2 linked regions of the Homo sapiens genome follow. The protein of the gene in region 2 binds, or shares a complex with, the protein of the main gene of each other region. Each region holds a gene or a part of one and is shown on either strand. Other genes may lie near its edges. A codon is read from its position in the direction of its gene.

The links. The genes of interacting proteins can lie anywhere in the genome.
Region 1: the proteins of CFB (region 2) and CFP are in contact, whole or in part, in a crystal structure (PDB 7NOZ), measured with the Homo sapiens proteins. Residues at the interface, in NP_001701.2 of Homo sapiens: Glu54 (codon at 2,627), Gln56 (codon at 2,621), Ser78 (codon at 2,555), Thr316 (codon at 673), Tyr317 (codon at 670), Leu349 (codon at 257), Ser351 (codon at 251), Met394; in NP_001138724.1 of Homo sapiens: Arg329 (codon at 456), Arg330 (codon at 459), Asn331 (codon at 462), Lys333 (codon at 468), Pro341 (codon at 492), Met420 (codon at 2,504), Val421 (codon at 2,507).

What each region holds. Positions count from the first base shown.
Region 1 is NC_000023.11:47,622,753-47,626,930, reverse strand, and holds the end of CFP (properdin precursor), read left to right. Parts: coding exon 1-158; intron 159-411; coding exon 412-603; intron 604-761; coding exon 762-873; intron 874-2,490; coding exon 2,491-2,656; 3' UTR 2,657-3,649; downstream 3,650-4,178. UniProt on the Homo sapiens protein: A positive regulator of the alternate pathway (AP) of complement. It binds to and stabilizes the C3- and C5-convertase enzyme complexes. Inhibits CFI-CFH mediated degradation of Complement C3 beta chain (C3b).
Region 2 is NC_000006.12:31,941,371-31,949,094, reverse strand, and holds the start of CFB (complement factor B preproprotein), read right to left. Parts: upstream 3,001-7,724; 5' UTR 2,874-3,000; coding exon 2,810-2,873; intron 2,723-2,809; coding exon 2,489-2,722; intron 2,089-2,488; coding exon 1,903-2,088; intron 1,748-1,902; coding exon 1,574-1,747; intron 1,354-1,573; coding exon 1,252-1,353; intron 1,151-1,251; coding exon 1,014-1,150; intron 722-1,013; coding exon 583-721; intron 266-582; coding exon 134-265; intron 1-133. Other genes in the region: complement C2 isoform 1 preproprotein, read right to left, coding at 3,738-3,917, 4,066-4,115, 4,242-4,368, 4,869-4,960, 5,102-5,178, 5,286-5,451, 5,568-5,679, 5,776-5,870 and 1 more.

The sequences.
Region 1 (4,178 bases), on a different chromosome or scaffold from region 2:
GCCTTGGGGCCCTGTGAGCCCCTGCCCTGTGACCTGTGGCCTGGGCCAGACCATGGAACAACGGACGTGCAATCACCCTGTGCCCCAGCATGGGGGCCCCTTCTGTGCTGGCGATGCCACCCGGACCCACATCTGCAACACAGCTGTGCCCTGCCCTGGTCAGCATCTCAGGGTTCACGATTTGCATGCCTAAGTCCCCCTTGCCCTTCTCTGCTGCCCAGCTCCTGCTGCTGAGGCCTTGTTCCTGTCTCTGATTCCTCCTTTCCTGGCCCTGATACCTTGTTTCCACCCCTGGTCCCCCATTCACACATCTGATCACCTCTACTCCCTCCTACCGCCCTCATTCCTTCCTCTGAACCCCCTTGCTGATTCCCTGCTTTGGTCCAATCCCCTGTTGCCCTGTCTCTGCAGTGGATGGGGAGTGGGACTCGTGGGGGGAGTGGAGCCCCTGTATCCGACGGAACATGAAGTCCATCAGCTGTCAAGAAATCCCGGGCCAGCAGTCACGCGGGAGGACCTGCAGGGGCCGCAAGTTTGACGGACATCGATGTGCCGGGCAACAGCAGGATATCCGGCACTGCTACAGCATCCAGCACTGCCCCTGTGAGTGTCCCACAGACTGTGCTCTGAGGGTGGGGTGGCCCATGCAGGATAAGGGGTTTCCAACTCTCTGCTGTGGACCTCACGTCTCTGCAGCCTCCCTCTCACTTTCCCACCAAGACCTCCAGTTCTGACTCTGTGACCCCTACCCCTCATTGCAGTGAAAGGATCATGGTCAGAGTGGAGTACCTGGGGGCTGTGCATGCCCCCCTGTGGACCTAATCCTACCCGTGCCCGCCAGCGCCTCTGCACACCCTTGCTCCCCAAGTACCCGTGAGTGAGAGGGCAAAGTATGCCTGGGAGGGGGTCATTATATTACAGGCGGGAGAGTCGGCTACCCCAGGAAACCAGGGTTTCCACTGCTGAATCTAAGGTATCTGCCTTGCCGAGTGCCACCTCCCAGCTGCAGGAAGTGGGGAGAAACTAAGAAGATGAGAAAGAAGTTCTTGGAGGATAATTCGTAGCCTCTGTGCCCCTCAGTCACCTGTTCAGTCACTCATCCACTTAGTCCTTCATGTGTCATTGACTCCGACCTTCAGTTACCCATGCTTTTAGCTGCCATCACTCAGGCCTCCATTCACTGCCTGCCTCCCACAGTCACTCATGCCTCCATCCACTTTGTCAGCATCTCACTGAGCCAAGGCACTCCAAGGCTTTTTCAGCAACAGTTGCAGATACACACAGCCCAGATCCTGTGGATCCTCCAAGGGACCCAGCTGAGCAAGCCCCTGACAGGAGGCATATGAGGAACAGCTGGTGCATGCAACAGGTGCTGCCACCTCAACCTAGGTCCAGGAAGCTGACTGGGCCTCCCAGGGCAGGTAGGGGTTGGGAAAGGCATTCCTGGCATCAAGACTGTGAACGGAGCCTTGGAGCTAGGTGATTAGCCGCTATAAGTGTTTCCAGGTGCCAGAGGGGCCCAGGTGTTAGAGAGGGTTAAAATGTTCATCCCTTTTCTTCCTTCCACATACATCAAGCTACTAGATTAAGTGAACTATTCCCAGCTCGTGGAAGGGCTGCCATCTGGGAAGGGATCTCCCGGCTGAGGGGGTTAGAGTGGGGCCTGAAGATTAGAGGTGTTGAATGGAGGCACAAAGGACTTGAGTGAGCGAGAGACTGAGTGGAGGAAGAAGCAATTGAGAGAACTGGGATGGGAGTGAATGGAGGGCTTTCCTAGTGGGACAAATAACCCAGGTAAAGACCTTTCTGGACAGGGACTGAGCTTGAATAAAGTGGAGGAGACAGAGAGAGAGATTGGCTTGGGGCAGGGATTTGGGCCCAACAATAAGGCCTTGAATGTCAGGACAAGGCATTGGGTTTTTTCCTGGAGGCAGTGGAAAGAGATATAAAGGGTATATATTTCGGAGGTAAAAGAAAGTAGCTCATGCCAACAAGTAACATTCACCAGCATTTATTGAGCACTTGCTGTGTGCCAGGCACTGCTCTGAGCACTTTACCTGAATTAACTCATTTATCCTCATTCAACCCCGTGAGGTGAGTATTAATATTACTATTCCTACCATTCTCATTTTGCAGATGAGGGAAACCGAGGCACAGAGAAGCTAAAGAAATTGCCCAATATCCTATAGCTAAAAAGTAGTGTTGGGAGGCCAGGCACAGTGGCTCACGCCTGTAATCCCAGCAACACTTTGGGAGGCTGAGGCAGGAGCATCACTTGAGCCCAGGAGATTGAGGCTGCAGTGAGCTATGATTGTGCCACTGCACTGCAGCCTGGGCAACAGAGTGAGACCCTGCCTCAAAAAAAAAAAAGGAAAAAAAAAAAAAAAAAAAGTAGCCCTCGGCATATAGCAGGCACTCAATAAGAATTGAATGCATTCTTGCCTTCCCTGAGATTCTCCCTTCCGTTCCTCCCCACCCCTAATGCCTCAGGCCCACCGTTTCCATGGTCGAAGGTCAGGGCGAGAAGAACGTGACCTTCTGGGGGAGACCGCTGCCACGGTGTGAGGAGCTACAAGGGCAGAAGCTGGTGGTGGAGGAGAAACGACCATGTCTACACGTGCCTGCTTGCAAAGACCCTGAGGAAGAGGAACTCTAACACTTCTCTCCTCCACTCTGAGCCCCCTGACCTTCCAAACCTCAATAAACTAGCCTCTTCGAGTTCGTCTACGATTCCTTAAAGGAGGAAAAACAACCTATCCCCTTCCCCAAAAGTAGGGTGATAGCATCTCATAGGGCAAACAGCACAGCACGGGCCAAGACACAGCAGCCTGTTGCGGAAAACAGTATTTTCCACTGTGGTCGCAGGTTGGCAGGAGTGAAAGCGAGTGTGCAGTCCCAGCCTCTCCCCGCCGCTGCCATAACCCCAATGTCTGGGCCCTGCGCAGCCCCCTTAGAGCCTCAGGGCCGCCCGGCACGTTCCTCTGCAGAGCTCCGCGTTACGGGTTTCCTGATTGGCTACTTGTCCTGGCAGGCACTTCTTGATTGGCCGGCGTGCTTGTTCGTTGTCTCCCCGTCTCCTGGACCTCCCTAGATTCCCACCAGCCGGAACCCTGGAGGAGCCTCTGCCGGCCGACTCCGACTCCGCGTCAGTCGAGGATGAACGGCAGAGGCGTGGCCGAGGCTGGCACCCTGCCGCCCGAGCACCTGCACCCACCCACTCCCGACAGCCCAGCTCCAATGCCACAATTACCAGCGACAAATAGCTCGGCGAGGCGGGGGGCGGGCCGAGGAAGTGCCTGTGTTGCGCTCTGAGCTGAGGAGGGGCAAAGAAGCTAGAGTCAGTATCCGCCCGGAGGAGCCCCCAAGACAAATCCAGACACTTTCCTCTGGTAATTTGTTCATTCATTCAACACTTATTAGCGCCTGCTGTATGCTAAAGCTGAGTCTGAGCATCTAGGGTGGAGGAGGGCTGGTAGAAAGAGGACATCTGAGTGAGGGAACAGACTCAGAAGGTATTCCTTTCGTGTGAACATCTATTCAACACTTAACGCCTACTGTATACTAACAATAGTGCTGGACATCACGGAGAATAGAGAAGAAGAGGAATCAGAGCGTTACGTGTCTCCGCAGTAAAGGGAACAAAGCCAGACACCAGTGCTTTTAGCATTTGCTCATTCATTTACCACTTACTGAATGCCGGGCCCCTTGTGAAGAGACGCATCATAAGAATCATAATAATCATGGTAATAGCTACTACTTAGAAAGTACTTACTGTGTGCTTAGTAGTGTCTTAAGGCTTTCCATAGCATGAACTCATTTCGTCCACAGCAAACCCATGTGGGTAAGTATTATTATCCCCATTTTACAAAGGAAACACGCACAGAAAGGTAGTAGGCTGGACATTTTTGAAGCATCATGGATTGTGATGAGGTCTTAAATGTCAAGAGTGCTGTGGGTGGAGGGGACCCGTCTGTGTGGGAAGGTTCGGGTAGGAGGTTTGTGACATGCACACCCAGAGTATATTGGTACACTTACTTGACTTCTCTGGTTCGTTTTCCCCTTATTCAAGTGGACCAGTCAATGAGTTGAAGTGAAGATGAAGTTGATGAGTACTTACTTGGTCATCTTGGGAAGACTGAGCCAAAGTGAGGGGTTCTGGTTGCTACTACAGGGTATGA
Region 2 (7,724 bases):
GGAGAGATGAACAGCCAGCTATGAGTCACATTCAGGGCCCCAACCATGGGTATAGTGTTACAAGTGGACTTAAGGGCCACATGCTGGTCTGAGAAGGTGGGGAGGCTGGGACAGGAGAGAGGTCCCTTCTGACCATCAGTCATGAGGATGATGACATGGCGGGTGCGGTTCCAGCCTTCAGGAGGGACGTCATCTGGCCAGCTCATCATGCTGTACACTGCCTGGAGGGCCTTCTTGGTGTTAGTCCCTGACTTCAACTTGTGGTCTGTGGAGAGGGAAGAGACCATCACCTCACCTGGTCTTCCAAGCCATCTTTTAACCCCAGAGACCAATCTGCAACTGAAATCCCACATCTTTCAACTTTTTAAGTTAATCATCATTACACGGACTTCCCTTTGACCACAAAGTGGCCCTTCCAGCCCCCAACAGGTTCCCACTAACCTCCATTGCCCAACGATCCTGCTGTTCAACTTTTGACTACAAAGTGGTCCTCCCTGTCGCCCTCAAGGTAGTCTCATGACCCCCTCCACCCTGAACCTCCTGACCCCAAAGTGAACCTCCCACCATTCCCTAACCTCTGACCTTCATAATTGATTTCATTGAGCTGCTTCGTGACCCAGTCTGCATTACTGCTGTCTGCTTCAGACACTTTGACCCAAATTTTGGGGTATGTGGCATATGTCACTAGACCATATCTTGGCTTCACACCATAACTTGCCACCTGTGGGTGAGGAGAACAAGGCGCCATGGCATTGAAAATAGAATACTGTGATTGGGAGATTTCAGCGACTTTGCTGGGACAGGGAGGCTCTCAGTAAGAGGCTCAAGGGCTGAGGTTCATGGAGGAATTACCAGTCAAGAAACTGCTTCAAGTAAAAGGGAAGGAGGACAGAATAGGACCTGGAGATTTTCCTGGGGCCCTGTTGTTCAGAGGGGCTGGAATGATCAGGGAGCTAGTCCTGGAAGATCAGCGAGATTCCATTCCCCCGAGTTCAGGGATAGGAGGATTCCACCTTCTCAATTAAGTTGACTAGACACTTTTTGGCTCCTGTGAAGTTGCTGGCCCCAATGCTGTCTGATCCATCTAGCACCAGGTAGATGTTCATGGAGCCTGAAGGGTCCAGGACGATCTTCCGCTTCTGTTGTTCCCCTGGGTGCCAGGAGAGTGGCTCAGGCTCCAGCATTAACAGTTCTGTCCCTTCTCCATTTTCCCCCAGTTCCCTGCCCTGCCTCCCTTCTCTGTCTTCAAACCTGGGCCGTGCCCATCCTCAGCATCGACTCCTTCTATGGTCTCTGTCAGGGAAGACAGGAAAGCTTCGGCCACCTCTTGAGGGGTGTCGTACATGAAGGAGTCTGGGAGAGTCAGAAATGAGGTCAAATGTCTGGGAGTGTCAGGGATACAGTGACCAAAGAGACGGGGGATCATGGGTTTCCAGGGTATAAAAGGCTCAGAAGTGAGATAGTTGTACAGGGAGGTTTAAACAAAGTGAGGAAAGAGCAGGGTTGAGGTGGGGAGAGAAGACAGTAGGATGGAAGACCAGGATCTGACCTGGGGGTACAGGTCAAAGGTCACCTTGGCAGGAAGGCTCCGTCCCGCTCCAAGAGCCACCTTCCTGACACGTTCGCCGCTGGGAGCCACGCAGGGTAAGCCCCCGGCTGCAGTGGTAGGTGACGCTGTCTTCAAGGCGGTACTGGCTGCCCACCTTCCTTGTGCCAATGGGGATGCCCGGGTTGGAGCAGTACCCCGCTGCAGAGGTATGAGACATCGAGGTAAGCACTGAAGCCTGAGGCCCCGTGAGCAAGGTAGAGAGCAAGAGTTACAGTGTCCGGAGCCGAGTGCCCACTCCTCGGGCTGGGCGCCGTCAGGGAGACAGCAATGTAGGGGGAGGGGATGCTTCTCACCTCCGTTGTCACAGATCGCTGTCTGCCCACTCCATCGGCCATTCACTTGGCAGGTGCGATTGGCAGAGCCCCGGAGAGTGTAACCGTCATAGCAGTGGAAAGAGATCTCATCACTCACATTGTAGTAGGGAGACCGGGGCCAGTATTCCCCGTTCTCGAAGTCGTGTGGTCTTGGACAGTGGATTGCTTTGAGAAGGGGGGACAAGTAGAAGTCATCAAGAGGGAAAGGCTGCCTTAGGTGTATCCCTCCTGGTCTCGGAGACCATGTCACTGAGAAACAGCGCATTCCCAGTCCCGCAGAAGCAGCATCTTACCTACTCCTCAACCCATATGGATTTCCACTGCTTCTCCCTCCCCATTTCTGAGTGTTCTCTTGACTTCCAGGGCTGCCTGGAAGCCCAGGGTAAATGCTTAGTAAGGGTTAACTCCGCTTTTTCTTGCCCCCTTTCCGCCTGCCACCCTAAAACTGCTCCTACTCCCGGTCAGCCCACCTTGTCACCCTGCCTAGTCTCATCCTAGTCCTGACCTTGCTGCCGCCTGCCCTGTTTCTGCCTTAGGCCACTGCCCACACTCATTGCCCTCAAACCTCTGCACTCTGCCTTCCTGACAGTCTTTTGGTCTTGAGTCTTCAGGGTGCTCCAGGACCCCGTAGATCTGCAGGTACGTGTCTGCACAGGGTACGGGTAGAAGCCAGAAGGACACACGTACTCCAGTGCCTGGCCCTCTTGGAGAAGTCGGAAGGAGCCGCCTTTGATCTCTACCCCCTCCAGAGAGCAGGATCCCTGGGGCCGGGCCAAAGACCATGGAGTGGTGGTCACACCTGAAGAGAAAGGCTGATGAAGCCTGGCCCCAAAAGGCCAAGGAGGGATGCTGGAGACAGCAGGAAGGGAAGGTTACCCTCGCTTACCTCCAGACAAGAGGCCCAAGATAAAGGGCATCAGGCAGAGTTGGGGGCTGAGATTGCTCCCCATGGCGTTGGAAGGCAGGAGAGAAGCTGGGCCTGGGGCAGGATGGTGTGTCCTGGCTTGCTTTGCTTGTCTGCTTGGCTCAGTGTCCAAGCTGAAACTCCAGACCTAGACCTGGTCACATTCCCTTCCCCTGCTCCCCACCAGCCCCCAGCCTTTTATACAATCTGTGTTCTGGCACCTGCGGCTCGCCCCGCCTGTCCTACCCACATCACTTTCCCGGAACATCCAAGCGGGAGGGCCCCGCTGAGCTGCCAGTCAAGGAAACAGAAACTGCAGAAGTCCCACCCTTTGCTGCCAAAGGTCCAGGACTCTCCCCTTCAGTACCTCCTCTCCGGCCTTAGCTCCTCCCCAGTAAGCCCAAACCACCCACTTAGGGACCAGAAATAAGGATCCAGCTCACTCCCCTGTTGATTGTGTGTTATGGTGCAGAGTCCAGCCACTGTTTGTCCAGTGGGGTCTCTGACCTGCCTTCCTGTAGCTCTTGGAGTCATTCTGGCCTCCCCCTCCCCCAAGGCCAGCCCTACCTGGCCTCCAGATAGAGGCACTGAGAGATGTGGAAACCATTGATTTTTATTAATTTCATAACTGGGAAATTCCATGTGAAAGTGAAACAAGCATGAGTCAAGTCAACCAGGGAAGGAATCTGGGGACAGGCCAAGGAGCGGGAGGTGGGGCAGCGAGGCAGTCCTGCTGGTAGGAGCCCTGAGGATTTCCCAGCTTGTGTGCGCTGCCTCTGGCATCCTAGAGACCCGGATTTACTCAGCTAGGAGAGAGGATGGATCACAGGGTCTAAGGGTGGCCATTCAGAGGTAGAAGATGGAGGGGCGGCAGATTCTGGCAGGGCAGCAGAGGGCTCAGTGGCCATGGCTAGAGGGGTAAAAAATTCAGGACATCCCCCAGGTGCTGCCTCAGCCAGGGCTGCATGCGGAAGAGATTGATGTGAAAGTCTCGTGGCGGCGGGACCTTGCTACGAGGGGCCCTTTTGCGGGAGTTTTTGTCAGCAGAGCCAAGGCAGGGGTTGTAAAGACCCCAGCTCACCAGACCCACCTGGAGAAAAGGAGAGAACTGGCTGGGAGGCTGCCACAGCCCCAACTGTAAGCCCCAACCTCCCTAGATCCCTCAAAGGCCTCCCTCATCCCCCCAACAAGGCTGAGATCCTGTAACCCCTGGGTCCTGCAAGCTTCTACCTTCTCACCTGAAAAAACCTGAATCTCCGCTCAAGGAAAACTGCTCCCCCAGATTCTCCTGCCAGCAAAGGGTGACAGGAGACAGTGTCATCTAGGGCAGTGGACTGGTGTTCTGGCATGCATGCTGGCCACAGAGACACAGGTGGCCTTCCCCTTGGGAATCCAGGCATGGTGAGGGACTCACCCTTGCAGGGACTCTCATCCTCCTGGGTCCCACTGCATAGGAACTGGTCTGTCACCACCTCCCTGACATCTGTCAAGTTGGGGAACATGGTTTTTTCTTGGGAGACAACCTCGGCACAGCTTGTCCACTGCAGCAGGGGTGGAACCAGAGAGAAGGGTAGAATAAGCAGACCCGGGTGGGTGCAGTGGCTCACGCCTGTAATCTCAGCACTTTGGGAGGTTGAGGCAGGCAGATCACTTGAGGTCAGGAGTTCAAGACCATCCTGGCCAACATGGCGAAATCCCGTCTCTACTAAAAATACAAAAATTAGCTGGTGTGGTGGTGGGCACCTGTAATCTCAGCTACTCGGGAGGCTGAAGTAGGAGAATCGCTTGAACCCAGGAGGCAGAAGTTGCAGTGAGCTGAGGTCGTGCCACTGCACTCCAGCCTGGGAGACAGAGCAAGACTCCATCTCAATAACAACAAAAAAAGAATAAGCAGACCCAGGGACACCTAGCAGGTTTGTGAGGCTTGGGAGGAGGGGTGACCCGCGTCAGAGAGAGAAAGCAGCCAGACCTGGAGAAGGAAGAGAGACATTCTGGGAGCTGTCACAGGGGGATCCCAGCATCCCCAACCTGAGACCCTCACCTCCACTCCCATCTTAAGGTTAATGTTCAGTTTGCTCCCATTCAAGGCGACAAAATGAGCAGGAACACTCTGTTTGTTCAGCAGTTCATTCTCTATAGTCAAGAGAAGGGGATGTTGGTGCTGGTCCTTTTACCCAGAATCCAGGTTCCTGGCTTGGGGACTGCAGCCTAGTCCTTGTTATCACCCCCAAACCCCGGCCCCAGCTCTCAAGCACCATAAGTCCCAGCACTCACCATGGTCCCTACAGGTGCTGCCTTGAGGTCTCCGCAGAGCCAGATTGGCCTCCATCGTGCAGGGAAGGCAGATGGGCCTGGGGAGAAGAGCAAGGGTCACACCAGCCTGTCCCCAGTATCTCTTCCAGGGATCTCCAGAGCACTCTTCCCTGCAGGGCACCCTCCCATCCCAGACTCCAGGCACCTGGCATGGGTGGACATCTTTACTTTCTGGGCCAGCTTCAGCAGAGCTATGTCATCACCATAGAACTCCAGGATTCCCTGGTTCTTTTTGGCAAAGACATCAAACCCTGGGGAGATCACCGCCTTCTCAATAAGGAATTCTTTGCCCCACTGGGATTTGGGGTCTCCTGGAAATGATACACTAGATTAGGCTAGACCAGGGCTCCTGCAGGGGCCAGAGGCTGGGTGAGGTGGTAGGATCTGTGGCTTCAGGATCAGGAGGCTGGTGCATCCCCTGCCTTACCCACATTGACCCTCCACAGGGAGTGGTCGTTGCCATCGCGGAAGCAATGAGCTGCTGTCAGGACCCATTGGTCGGAGATGAGGGCCCCCCGGCAGGTCTCTTGGCTCTTGGGCTGCAGGGGAACAGGTGATTTTCAGAGATTGCAGTATGTCTGGCCCATGGCCGCTTTTACCTCTGGAATCCAAGCCCTGCCCCTCCTTCCTGGTACCTTAATAGTGACATGCCAGGGTGTCCTCTCCTGGTCAGAGGCGTTTGCTGACATGTTCCCCACCCCGCAGATGGTGTCTGTGAGCTTGGAGACATCTGTGGGTGTGAGGATCAGATGGGGAAGGAGGCAAGTGAGGGGCACTGTGTCCAGGTTCCCAACACGGGCCTCTGGCGGGCTCCTCACCATCCTCCCCACACCAAGGAGGGCAAAGCTCACTCACCCAGCATATGTTCAAAGACCTGGTGCAGAGCCTTTGTGTCCTGCAGAATGAAGGCATGCCTCTCACCATCCTTCTTGGACCCTAGCTCATTCAGTTCTCTCCAGTCCACATCCAGCTTGCCCACCCCGATGGCATAGATGTCTGGTGGGGAAGAGGGAAATCACCAGACTCCTGTGGCTTTGGGGCTACCCCATGAGACAGGAGGCTGTCATCTGAAACTCACTGTGTCCAATCAAGACCTACATGAGCTGGACCCCTGCGTCCTCCCCACTGCTACCTGTCTGCCTTCATTTCCTGCCACTCCCTGCCCTTCACTCTCCTGCAGCACACAGCCTCTTTGAAGTTCCTCAAATCCATAGGCATGGTCACACCTCAGGCCCTTTGCCCAGCTGTGCCTCTGCCTAGTTCACTCCTCCCCCCCAGACTTCCACATGGCTCACTTTCGTACCTTTTTAAGTCTTGGCTCAAATGTCACCTTCTCAGTGAGGCCTTCCCTGGTCTTCCTGTCTAAAACTGCAATGCCCCAGACAAACTTTCATCCCCACTTTGGGAGGCAAGGTGGGAGGATCCCTTGAAGCCAGAAGTTTGAGACCAGCCTGGGCAACATGGCAACACCCCTTAGCTTGTGTCACCTACCACCTGCTGGGTTCTATGGTTTTCTTATCCTGTTTATTCCCTGTAATGGTGGAATTGTGTCCCCCAGAAAGATGTGTTCGAGTCCTAATCCCCAGTATCTGTGACTTTATTTGGAAAAAGGGTCTTTGCAGATGTAATCAAGTTAAGATTAAGTCATACTAGATTAGGGTGAGCTCTAATCCAATGACTGAGGTCCTTATAAGAAGAGGTAAGCCAGAGCCAGGCGTGGTGGCTCACACCTGTAATCACCAGGAGGCGGTGGTTGTGGTGAGCCAAGATCGCGCCATTGCACTCCAGCCTGGGCAACAAGAGCAAAACCCCGTCTCAAAAAAAAAAAAAGAAGAGGTGAGCCGGGCACGGTGGCTCACACCTGTAATCCCAGCACTCTGGGAGGCTGAGGCGGGCAGATCACGAGGTCAGGAATTCAAGACCAGCCTGACCAACATGGTGAAACCCTGTCTCTACTAAAAATACAAAAATTAGCCAGACATGCTGGCACACACCTGTAATCCCAGCTACTCAGGAGGCTGAGGCAGGAGAATCGCTTGAACCGGGAGGCGGATGTTGCAGTGAGCCGAGATTGCACCACTGCACTCCAGCCTGGGCAACAGAGCAAGACTCCATCTCAAAAAAAAAAAAAAAAAAAAAAGTGAACTGGCTGGGCATGGTGGTGACTCATGCCTGTAATCCCGGCAGTTTTTTTGAGGCGAAGGCAGGCAGATCGCCTTGAGGCCAGGAGTTTAAGACCAGCCTAGCCAACATGGCGAGACCATGTCTCTACTAAAAATACAAAAATTTGCCGGGCATGGTGGCACATGCCTGTAATCCCAGCTTCTTGGGAGACTGAGGCACGAGAATCACCTGAACCCAGGAGGCAGAGGTTACAGTGAGCCGGGATCCCGCCACTGCACTGCAGCCTGGGCTTCTGGGTGACAGAGCGAGACTCTGTCTCAAACAAATGAACAGAAAAAGAAGAAAGGAATTTGGACACAAAGACACAGGTAGTGGGTCTCCTATCTATATAAGAGAACAGCATGTAATGACACAGAGGCACACACAGAAAAGAAGGCGAGTTGAAGACAGAGGCAGAGAA